Regions from separate parts of the Homo sapiens genome. Here region 2 is linked to region 1. The links come from fine-mapping of genetic effects on gene expression. A gene starts in region 1. The other region holds a variant in brackets. All regions are shown on one strand. Distances are from middle to middle. Region 1 holds the start of ARL3 (ARF like GTPase 3). Region 2 overlaps ARL3 (ARF like GTPase 3).

The links. PIP is the estimated chance that this variant, and not a neighbour inherited with it, causes the effect. A credible set is the group of variants that fine-mapping cannot tell apart.
Region 2: its variant is the best candidate, but not a certain one, in a credible set for the expression of ARL3 in lung (TOPMed, PIP 0.76).

What each region holds. Positions count from the first base shown.
Region 1 is chr10:102,711,559-102,716,928 of GRCh38, forward strand. It overlaps ARL3 (ARF like GTPase 3), which reads right to left and starts at 2,839. Exons shown (of 6, transcript NM_004311.4): 1 at 2,715-2,839. The coding sequence starts at 2,717. It overlaps SFXN2 (sideroflexin 2), which reads left to right and starts at 3,078. Exons shown (of 12, transcript NM_178858.6): 1 at 3,078-3,123. RefSeq lists silencers at 2,499-2,598, 2,639-2,688, 2,756-3,150, 2,969-3,118 and enhancers at 2,904-3,480, 3,481-4,056.
Region 2 is chr10:102,671,990-102,677,359 of GRCh38, forward strand. ARL3 (ARF like GTPase 3) reads right to left here. Exons shown (of 6, transcript NM_004311.4): 6 at 1,742-4,952. The coding sequence ends at 4,905. Among named protein-coding and RNA genes, the nearest start is that of TRIM8, 30 kb to the left of the region's middle. RefSeq lists an enhancer at 1,816-2,365. The variant C/A (reference allele first, on the strand shown) is at 2,884.

The DNA of each region.
Region 1 (5,370 bases):
GGCTAACATGGTGAAACCCCGTCTCTACTAAAAACACACACACACAAAATTAGCCGGGCGTGGTGGCGGGCGCCCATAGTCCCATCTGCTGCGGAGGCTAAGGCAGGAGAATGGCGTGAACCCGGGAGGCGGAGCTTGCAGTGAACGGAGATCGCGCCACTGCACTCCAGTCTGGGTGACAGAGCAAGACTCCGTCTCAAAAAAAGAAAAAAAAAAGAAGAAAACAGGAACAATACTTACATCTCAAGAGATGATGCTATGAGGATGAAATGAGGTCATGTATGTAAAGCATGACACATAACAGCCACTGAAAAGACTACCCTCGTGTTTTGTTTATTTTTTTAAAATAATTTTTCACGGGCCATTTTCTAACCAGAAAACATAAGTAACTGTTGGGAACAATCTTCAAATGTTGAACATGCTTGAGAACGACCACAAGCTCCATATATGTAGAAAGTGCTCCATAAATAATTACTGAATGAAGGAATCATATGTTAAATATAAGTGGTTAGTTACGTGCTAAAATTACTGTCATTTTAGTATTTTAGTAATTCATCAAGAACCTGGCACTGTAAAGCAGGGGTAAAATAGCTGACTCTAAATGTTCAGAGAAACCCATATTTGGGTTTTTGCCACAGTTACCCAAATTTGAAAAAAAATATGTATTTGTCACAGCTGAAGTTTAAAACAAAAACCAAAAAAACCTTGGGGTTCACGCTTCAGTTGTACAGTTAACCATGGGGGCTCATGGGATACCAGATGGGATACACTTAAGTCACACGACTGACTAAATTCAGTGTTTCACTTCAAGTTTTAAGAACAGCTCACGCTTGTGGAGATAGAAAAAAAATGTTTTTGGGAAACCAGATAAAGAATCCGGAATAATTTGTCTTAATTTCTTATTGTTCATCTTAGGAAAAAGGAAAAAAGAAAAACAAAATCTGTTTTCATCATTGAACACAACAGTTGTATACAACAGTGTTGTATATACACTGTAAATTTGTTGTATACTGTGCCAATTTGCACCTGGAAACATGGGCAGTGGTTAATTTACTGTGGCCTGTAATTATAAATTAAACAATCATGGATTACACAGTACACTTAATTGATCAACAAACTGGGAAAAGTTAGCCAACTCTCATGCACTTCTCATCCATAATGATGAATCTCAATCTCTGTTGGTTCGGCATGCCCTTTTCATTCCAATTCTAGCTATTTTCTGGGTAAATATTTATGTTTGTACTCATTTGTTGAGAAAAACTTTAACTTTAAAAGGACAGCTCACGTATAAATGATTAAGAAAAAGAAACAGTTGTAAAAATCTGTTTAGCCTGAGGTTAAAAAAAAACTGCAAGTGTAGCAAGTGTGAAATGTGATTGGCAACTTCAGATCAAATAACCCTACTTCTTTAACAATCTGACAATGTAAAATCAATTGAGTTTTTTTTTTCCTTTCTAAATCTACTCACTGGATAATCTGACCAAACATACATCTATTTTTTTTTTTCCTGGGCATCTAGTTTTTTTGTTTTTTTTTTTACTTCTTAAATCAACAGAAATGGCTCAACATTTCTAAAAGTCAAGAAAGGAACTAGGAAGAGAGTTGGAGCAGTGACTATAAGTTTGATGACAGGCTCTTTGCAGCCAACTAACCTGCTTTAAGTGTTCAAAATCAATTTTTCTTTGATAGCTCTAAAATTACTCAATTCCATTTTAACTCCCTCCAACTAACTGTACAGACATTAACAAGAAACAGAGTGTCAACGGTCAGATCTGTCACAACCATAATTTAGAATTTGGGAAAGCTTTAATTGGGACTGACAGAGAAAAGCCTTGCCCCGGATTGAAGTTCGATCTCCATTTTTAACTTCTCGTTCTTTTCAGTTTGGAGAACTCAAGCTAGGATTAAGATCTTTTGGTCCTGGTATGGTCACACGCAAGAGGAGACTGCAAAAGGTTTCGAAGGAAATTCTAGAGACGGAGCAGCTAATATGTCTTCATCAACATGGATTATGTATTGAATGAAAAATCGGTCATCACCAACAATCAGATCCTGCAAAACTCTCAGCAAATAACTAAATAATTCGGGACTGAGGAAGCGCACCCGCCACGCAGACACCAAGACGGCGTAAAATCCACCAGGCATCCCTTCCAAGCGGCACCCCTTTGTGTCGTGGGACTTACTTCCCTACCCCCCAGGGGCCCGCACAGCGCGAGAAGGAGGAGAGCTAGGCTACCATCTCCCCTGCTACCGCCAGGGCGACCTCAGAGCCAATGGGGCCGGCCTTCTCTCCGCTTCTGGCCGGGCTCCAGACGAACCCCACTTTACTGCAAAGCCGCGAGACCGATTGCCCGGGAAGTCTAAGCCTGCTAGCGAAAGCTGCTCTCCGCAGTTCCTGGGATCCGCCCTCACCCCTGTCCCCAGAGTAATGATGGAGCCCGGGCTCCGCACCCGGCCAGCCGCGCACTCTGCCAGCCCCTTCCCCAAGCCTCGGACCCGCTGCAAGCCCCGCCTTCCTCTCCAGGCCCAGGCCTCCCTCCAGGGCCCACCCTCGGGTCTCCCCGCCGACCCCCGAAATCAGTCCACAACCCAGATAGCAGGCTGAGCGACGTCCCATTCCCTCCTTGGCTTTAAGCGCAGTGCTCCGCCCTGGGCCTGGGGACGGGAGGGGGATAACCGGCCGGCTCCAAGGGGGCCCAGGCCCCCACACTCACCATCCTCCCGCCGAGTCCCTCCTCCTCCTCCTCCTCCTGCTGCCTCCCCCGTTACCAGGGGCAACTGCTGCGGCGCCGCCCCCGACGTCCCTCGCACGCACAGCTGAGGAGCTGAGCAGCAATACGGGGCGGGGTGCAGCTCCGCTTTCCCCAGAGTGCGCAAGTGCGCTAAGGCGCCCGCCCACGCAGTGGGCGGGCTACGGGAGCTGCAGAGGCCGCCGCCGGCTCGCCTGGACCAGGGAGTGGAGAAAGCCTGCCCACGTGGCTGGCGGGAGCCTCCCGGCCTGGGATTGGTCGAAAAGGAGGGGCGTGGGGCGGGCGTGGGGGCAGTTCCCCAGCCCAGGTCCTCCTCTCACCCGGGCCAGTTTTCAAGGCGGGCTGTAACTGGTGGCATTTGTCCCGGGACCAGGTAAGGGGCCTTGGGACAATGGCGCTCGCCCTGTCTACCTCCAATCCCCACATCTCGGGTGGGTGCTGAGATTGCTGTCCTGACTGCCCAGGCGGGGCTGCAGCGCGGGCTGGACTTCCACCTGCAGAAGCCACGTGGCGCGAAGTGCGCCCTGGGGCTGCAGATGGGCCCCTCTGCTCTGACCCCCATTGCCTAGGAGTGCCAGGCCGAGCGGCTGGGGCGTTACGAGCTGTCCGGGATGGGGGAGTACCGATGGGGGGAGGCCGTCTGTCGGAGGGCAAGAAGCAGCCTGGGGGCTGGCCCTGAGCCCTGAGGTGAGCTGAAAGCACAGGTGAAAGGCGTTTTGGGGATCGGCCCGGTTTTTGTTTTGACACAGGGTGTCGCTCTGTCGCCCGGGCCGGAGTGCGGTGGCGCGATCTCGGCTCACTGCAGCCTTTGCCTCACAGGCTTAAGCGATTCTCCCGCCTCAGACTCTCGAGTAGCTGGGATTGCAGGCGGGCGCCACCACGCCTGGATAATTTTTTGTATTTTGTTTTTGTAGAGACGGAGTTTCGCCATGTTGCCCAGGCTGGGCTCGAACTCCTGGGGTCAAGCCATCCGCCCGCCTAGGCCTCCCAAAGTGCTGAGACTACAGGTGTTCCAAAGTGGTGAGCCACTGTGCCCAGCCTCTGGCCGGTTTTGCTAAGCTGCTTTGGACAGGACCGCGTACCATCTGTAGTCCTGGAGGAGGCAAAAATGAGCCTGCATTTTTAGCCAAGGAAGAGCAAGTGGGACACTGGGGTGGGTTGGGAAGTGCTACCTCCCATCCCTTTCCCGATGCAGAGGACTATAAGAAGAGTTTACACAAACGTGCTAGGCCCTGTTCTAGACGCTGGAGACACAGCAGTGGACAAAATCAGCCCGTATGGAAATTACATCCTTCCTAATGAAATACATTTCATACCAAATTTCATTTTCACAACCCCTAGAAATTGGTAATTGCGGCCAGGCGCAGTGGCTCATGCCTATAATCCCAGCACTTTGAGAGGTGGAAGGGGAGGAAGGCTTGAGCCCAGGAGTTGGAGACCAGCCCGGGCAACACAGTAGGACCCTGCCTCTACAAAAAAAAATTTTTTTTAATTAGCCAGGTTCCGTGGCGCACTTGTAGTCCTAGCTACTCGGGAGGTTGAGGCTGGAGGATTGCTTGAGCCCAGGAGCTATTATCACATCACTGTACTCCAGCCTGGGTGAAAGAGCAAGACCCTGCCTCAAAAAAAAAAAAAAAAATGAAAACAAAAATCAACATCTGCTGCTTGCATACCTGCTTCAGATCCTTGGAGAGAAAAAGCAGTTCAGAGCCTTGACTAAGGAGGTGATGAATGGAGGTGATACAGGAGCACAAACCCCTATAATCTACTCATCTCCAGACTGTTGGCCCTTTTGTGAAAAAGGCAAGGGAGGTTGCTCTTTCTAAGTTGTCTGGTGCCTAACAGCCCACTTGCCTTGGAGTCAGACGAGTACCCATAAGCCTATACCTGGGCCTGCTCTTGTAATTATTACCCTCATTTTCCAGCTTGCTCTAGGCAGCCTTGACCTTAATCCTTGCCTGTCTCAGTGGTCTTTGTGTCTGACCTTCTGGGGTCTTTGGCTACCTTGATCTTCCTCTGATGTGAGTACCAGCGATGATGTTTCGTTTTTCTCCCTACCTGGGGCTACAAACAGTAATCTTGTGCACTTCTGCTTGTAAGAGGATACCTCAGAAGGAATTTGGAAGCTTGTTTTCTGATCTCTGATACCATTTGCCAGAGAAAATCTGCTCTTTCTGGGAAGGATGAGCATTACGTCAGAGGTGGCAGTAGTCTATTACTTTTTTTTTCTCTTTGTTTCCCTCTCTTTCTTTCCTTTTTTTTTTTTTTTTTTTTTTTGAGATGGAGTTTCACTCTTATTGCCCAGGCTGGAGTGCAACGGTGCGATCTCGGCTCATCACAACCTCCACCTCTCGGGTTCAAACGATTCTCCTGCCTTAGCCTCCCAAGTAGCTGGGATTACAGGTATGCACCACCACGCCTGGCTAATTTTTTATTTTTAGTAGAGACGGGGGTTTCTCCATGTTGGTCAGGCTGGTCTTGAACTCTCAACCTCAGGTGATCTCTCTGCTTTGGGCTCTCAAAGTGTTGGGATTACAGGTGTGAGCCACCGTGCCAGGCCTCGGAGTTGGCAAGTAGGCTATAGTGGATAGAGGACCTTGGGGAAGTAAGGCCTTAGCTG
Region 2 (5,370 bases), 40 kb before region 1:
TACTGATGTCCCAAATATTGCATGGGATATACTTGAATTAAAAACTATTCATTGTTTATCTGAAATTCAAGTTTAACTGAATGTTCTGTAATGTATCTGGCAACCCTAATTCTTCTTTCTCCTGCTTCCAGCTACCAGCTAGTTCTGCCCACAGCTTGCTCTTTAAAGGCCGGGCGCAGTGGCCCACGCCTGTAATCCCAGCACTTTGGGAGGCCGAGGTGGGCAGATCACGAGGTCAGGAGATTGAGACCATCCTGGCTAACACGGTGAAACCCCATCTCTACTAAAAATACAAAAAAACCCCAAAAGTTAGCCGGCGTGGTGACAGACGCCTGTAGTCCCAGCTACTAGGGAGGCTGAGGTGGGAGAATGGCATGAACCCGGGAGGCGGAGCTTGCAGTGAGCTGAGATTGCGCCACTGCACTCCAGCCTGGGCGACAGAGCGAGACTGTCTCAAAAAAAAAAAAAAAAAATTAGCCAGACATGGTGGTACATGCCTCTAGTCCCAGCCACTTGGGAGGCTGAGTTGGGAGGATGGCCTGAGCCCAGGAGGTTGAGGCTGCAGTGAGTTGTGACTGTGCCACTGCACTCCAGCCTGGGTGACAGAGCGAAGTCCTGTCTCAAAAACACAAAACACACACACACACACACAAATGGTGAGGCCCTTTGGGACCAGCTGTGCTGCTGTGTCTCTAGCCTGCTGAAGGGACAACGAACTCTTCTGCTCCAGAGGGCAGAGCCCGGGACAGCTGCCAACTCTGCACCTTCCATGTAACACTGGGCAGGTCTGTTCCCTCTCGGAACCCTCTGTAAATGGAAGATCCAGTATTAGGTACTATGTAACTGCAAGTCTCCCTGAAGGCCCTAACTTTGCTAATTATTTCTTCTCCCTTTTTCCTGTCTGTTGGGCTGGACTTGGCCAAGGATGAAACCCAGTCTATGGTTGTGCTGTGTGAGCAGAGGACACCCAACACCTGGGGCAGGGAACCCAGGGGAGCAGTGCTTGTCAGAGGCTGAGGGGAGGAGGCTGGGCAGAAGTAGCACTCAGAGGCTGGGGGGGCTGAGGCTGCTGGGAGATGAGCCATTGACAAATTTTTTTTTTTTTTTTTTTTTTGCAATGGAGTTTTCTCCTGTTGCCCAGGCTGGAGTGCAATGGCACGATCTCAGCTCACTGCAACCTCTGACTCCTGGGTTCAAGCAATTCTCCTGCCTCAGCCTCCCAAGCAGCTGGGATTACAGGCACGTGCCACCACGCCCGGCTAATTTTGTATTTTTAGTAGAGACGGGATTTCACCATGTTGGTCAGGCTCGTCTTGAACTCCTGACTTCAGGAGATCTACCTGCCTTGGCCTCTGAAAGTGCTGGGATTACAGGCGTGATCCGGCCTTGCCATTGACTGTTTTTGTTCTCCAGAGGCGGCAGCTTGCTGAGCATTGAGACCCAGGCTCCAGGCCCCACCTGCACTTAAAGGCTCTGTGATTTCAGGCAAATTCCTTAACTGGGGCAAATGTCTCAATGTCCTCTGCTGCAAAGGGGGACTAATGCTCACCACGATGTATCTGAAGTGCCCGGCACGTAGGAGGGGCTTAATGAAGGGCTATTATTGCTATTGTTGGTATCCTATTTTATATATATATCCTTCTGGAAAAAACCTCTTGAAGAAAGCTAACCCCTGAAAGGACAAACACATTTCAGGCCCTCTCTGAGCTTCAGCAAAGAACACAACACATTCCAGGCTGCCTTCGTTCCAGCTAAATTTTATTTGTCGGATTTTTGACAGACGTCTAAATTATACATTGAGTTTTCCACATGACCAAACACCACATCTCTTCCTTTGATTATCATTTTCAAAAGGGATTATAAAAAAAGAACCTTTTGATGGATCAGACTGAACCCTGAAACCACATGGAGTGCAGAGCTAAAAATAAAAGGAAGTAAGAACTGGTCCCCGAGAAGGAAAGGAAAGGGAAATCAAAGCAAACTCTGACGGGAATGGAGAGACGAGTCCTGGTGAGGGTGACATGGTGTCACCCTCCAGGCCAGGCCGGATAAGGAGCGGCCAACAGTGAGGGTGGGGCGCAGAGTGGCACAAAAATAGCCACTACTTTAGTCCAGAGGGGAATAAAGAAATTTGTCAAAAGCAAGGAGAGAGAAGTGGAGACGGAGGGAGGGAGGAAGGAAGGGGGCAGGACCATGTCCTCCCAGCAGCCGTGGGAGCTGCGGACTCCTTTAACCCTGGCACATTTCTAACCGCCGGCATAATCGCTGACTTTCAGCTGTGCACCGACATGTTCCCCAGCTCAGCCCACATCAATGACACCCTTGTTTCCATAGTAACCAAGGGAGAGTGAAGGGGAAAGGGTGTGTTGCACTGGGTGCAGGGAATCCAGCCAAAAGCAGCCACACGGGGTAGGTCGGGAGGAGGGGAGGACTCGAGTTTTTCCCACAACTGGCTTGAGCACATATCACGAGCACCCCCCAGGCCTTGCCTGCCCTCCGGCCCCCAGCCCTCTCCCCCGCACATTCAGATGCAATTGTGCGCAGGGCAAAAGTCTCGCTAAGACTCACTGGGGACAGGAGGAGGGGAAAAGGGGTCTTCCCTTTCCAGCTTCAAATTCTGTCTTCTGGTCAGGGGGCAGGAGTGGGCAGGGAAGAGGCAAGAGGGCTTTAAAAAGTATTTTGTTTTTAAATGGGAGCTTTCAAACTCTGCCTTTTTCAGGCTTCTCTCATCTACCCCAGAGCCCCAGGAGGGTTCAAAAGGGCTCAAAGGGAAGATGAAAGCGTGTGACATCTGCAGTGTCTCTGTGTCTCTGCAGCTGAGAGCAAATCAGAACATTTACAGAGGCCGTTATCAGAGGAGTGGCTTCTGCCTGCTAGGAGAGG[C/A]CTTGGGATGGCTCTTTAAAACAGTCCCCTAAGTTGGTGGTAAAAGAACAAAAATATTTTACAGACCCTCCAATGCCAAAGTTCCATACTGCAGTGTTCCAAAATTGCAGACCTCCAAGCAGGCATTTTGCCCCTCAGATAACTTGTCCCTGCTGAACTATTCGGAAGAAAAAACAATTTGCAAGTGCTAGAGCCACATTTGCAGCCTGGTAGAAGGGGGATTTCTGATTCCTTATAATTCTGTGTTGCCTCTGTAAGGGAGAGCTTGGGTGAGCCAGAGAAGCCAGTGGAGGAGGCTGCAGAGAGCAGCTAGCTCTGAGGTTAAAAAAACCCCTCACTTTCTTTTGTTTTGCAAGTCCTTACAGGTCTGTCCACAGCAACTCTGGGGCACCTTTTCACGGCTGGCTTTGTTAATGACTTTCATGTCAGATCGCTTTTGAAGCTGGCTATGCCTCAGTCTCTGCTGCACTCTTAGCCAGAAGCAGCTGGGTATTGAGGGCCAGGGGCTGCAGCGGCCCCTTCAGTCTGCTCACACGCCCTGATGGGCTTGGGAAGGGCCACCTCCCAGGATGAGAAGGCAGCTGGCCCCCAGGGACCCACCAGTCACTGGACAGTCTCTTATTCATTCTCTGAAAACCCCTGAGCTCAGGCACCAGAACAGAGTTTAATTCAGGAGCCGGGCAATGCTCTGGCCTGTTTCCCCATGTTTGAAGCTGAGGATTTCTGAGGTTCAGGGAAACAAGCTCGTTTTGCAACGAGGGGCAGGAGAAATGTTCTGCTATTCCTCTCCAATCAATCAACAGAGGACGGACATTCTGCTGCAGAGAGGCAGAGGAGCCCAGCAGCTGGGGTGACTCTTGATTCCTTGGACACGACCCCTGCAGTCACACACACACCCATGTCCTCCCCAGCAGCAAACCCTCTCCATCCAGGAGCATCCCACACCACCAAGTTGCCAGCACTGTAAAAATTGATCTAAAAATCGATCTGCCTGGCTTTTCTCAGTGGAGCAGGTTCATGGTAAAGCTGCATTTATTTCTAAAATCTGATAGCAGCGGCCTATTGTGATCGTTTAAACACAGAATTCTTTGAGCTTTAGAAATCCTGTCTATAGGACGGCCGTGGAGAAGCCAGCTAATCTCAGAGTCGGCTGCTCACTGCTCCACTGAGCTGGAGAAAGCCTGTTTACGCTAGCCTGAGCCCTCGATGTGAGAGCTTTTTAAGGACCTTGTAATTTTTCTGGAATTAAACCTCCCACCTCTCCTTACATTCCAGATGTCATTACAGTCAAAAGTCATAAGAATTTGCTTCTCTGTGTGGCTGGCTGGGGCAGAGGCAGGGGTGGGTGGGATGGGGTATGTTTCTGTAGTGACTTGTCTGCAAGAAAGACTTTTTTTTTTTTTTCTGTCCAAAGAGTGAGGATTACATACGTAGTCTCCGACCTGCAAGACGATGAGATGGTTTAATTATCTGCCTTTTCTCCCCCCACCCCCACCCAGCAGCTTCCTGTCGGACAGACTGAAGCCTGGCTGGGCTAGTGACGGTAAAAATCACTGACAGCACCAGCAAACACTGTCTGTGGTTTCAAAACCATGGAGGGAATGCAAGGGACGGGTCAGTAAATAAATGAACTCAGCAAAGCTGCTTCTTCCTCTTTTTCTTTTTCTTTTTTTTTTTTTGAGAGGAAAAAAAAGCCCACTGGAATTGTCTAAACTGCAATGCAATCTCTTGCTCATTTAAAAGATCTCATTTTCTAATCATGTGCTTTGAGACATTTAATACTATTTCAATTATGCAGAGGAAATAATATAATTCCTTTATTTGAAAAATGATACTGAACCTCAGAGATCAGTTAAATCTACTGCTGGAATGGGGATTCTTTCTAAACCGTGTTGTTCCCTCTCTTCAAACAGCTGGAGCTGTACACAGATGGAAAAACATTTGGTCAGAAAGCAGCAAATTAGTGTTTTTCAGGACCGAATTCGGCTCCCGCAGCTCCTGCATCTCCATTCGTCTAGATTTTATTTCTTCTTTGCATTGACATTTTTGCAGACCCAGTTCATGCCATCCTTTGAGGGAAATGGGCAGAGAAAGGCAGTGTTAGTTATAAGAAAAGCACCACACACTCTAGCCTGGAGGGGCGGGCAGTGGGGGTCCCAGGCCCTCCCTCCCAGACCGCCAGCTTTAGGGAGTTTGCTTGGCTCAGGGGCCCACCTGGGTGACCAGGGACAGTGACCTCCCAGGAGGAGGAGGAGGGAGGTCTCTGAGAGCACAAGAGGGCGATGGGAGGGGGATGCCCAGCGCCTGAACTTGAGATGGGTCCTCAGGAACTCCCTCTGAAAAAATAAACACATCTGCCTGCATCCAAAGCCTGACTGAAGAGCTATCAGGAAAGATTCCAGCCATTTTTGGCTTTTTCTAAAAGGTGACCTTTGCCAGGGCATTAAATTCAATAAGCCACCCTTTTGGTGCCCCATGTGTTTACAG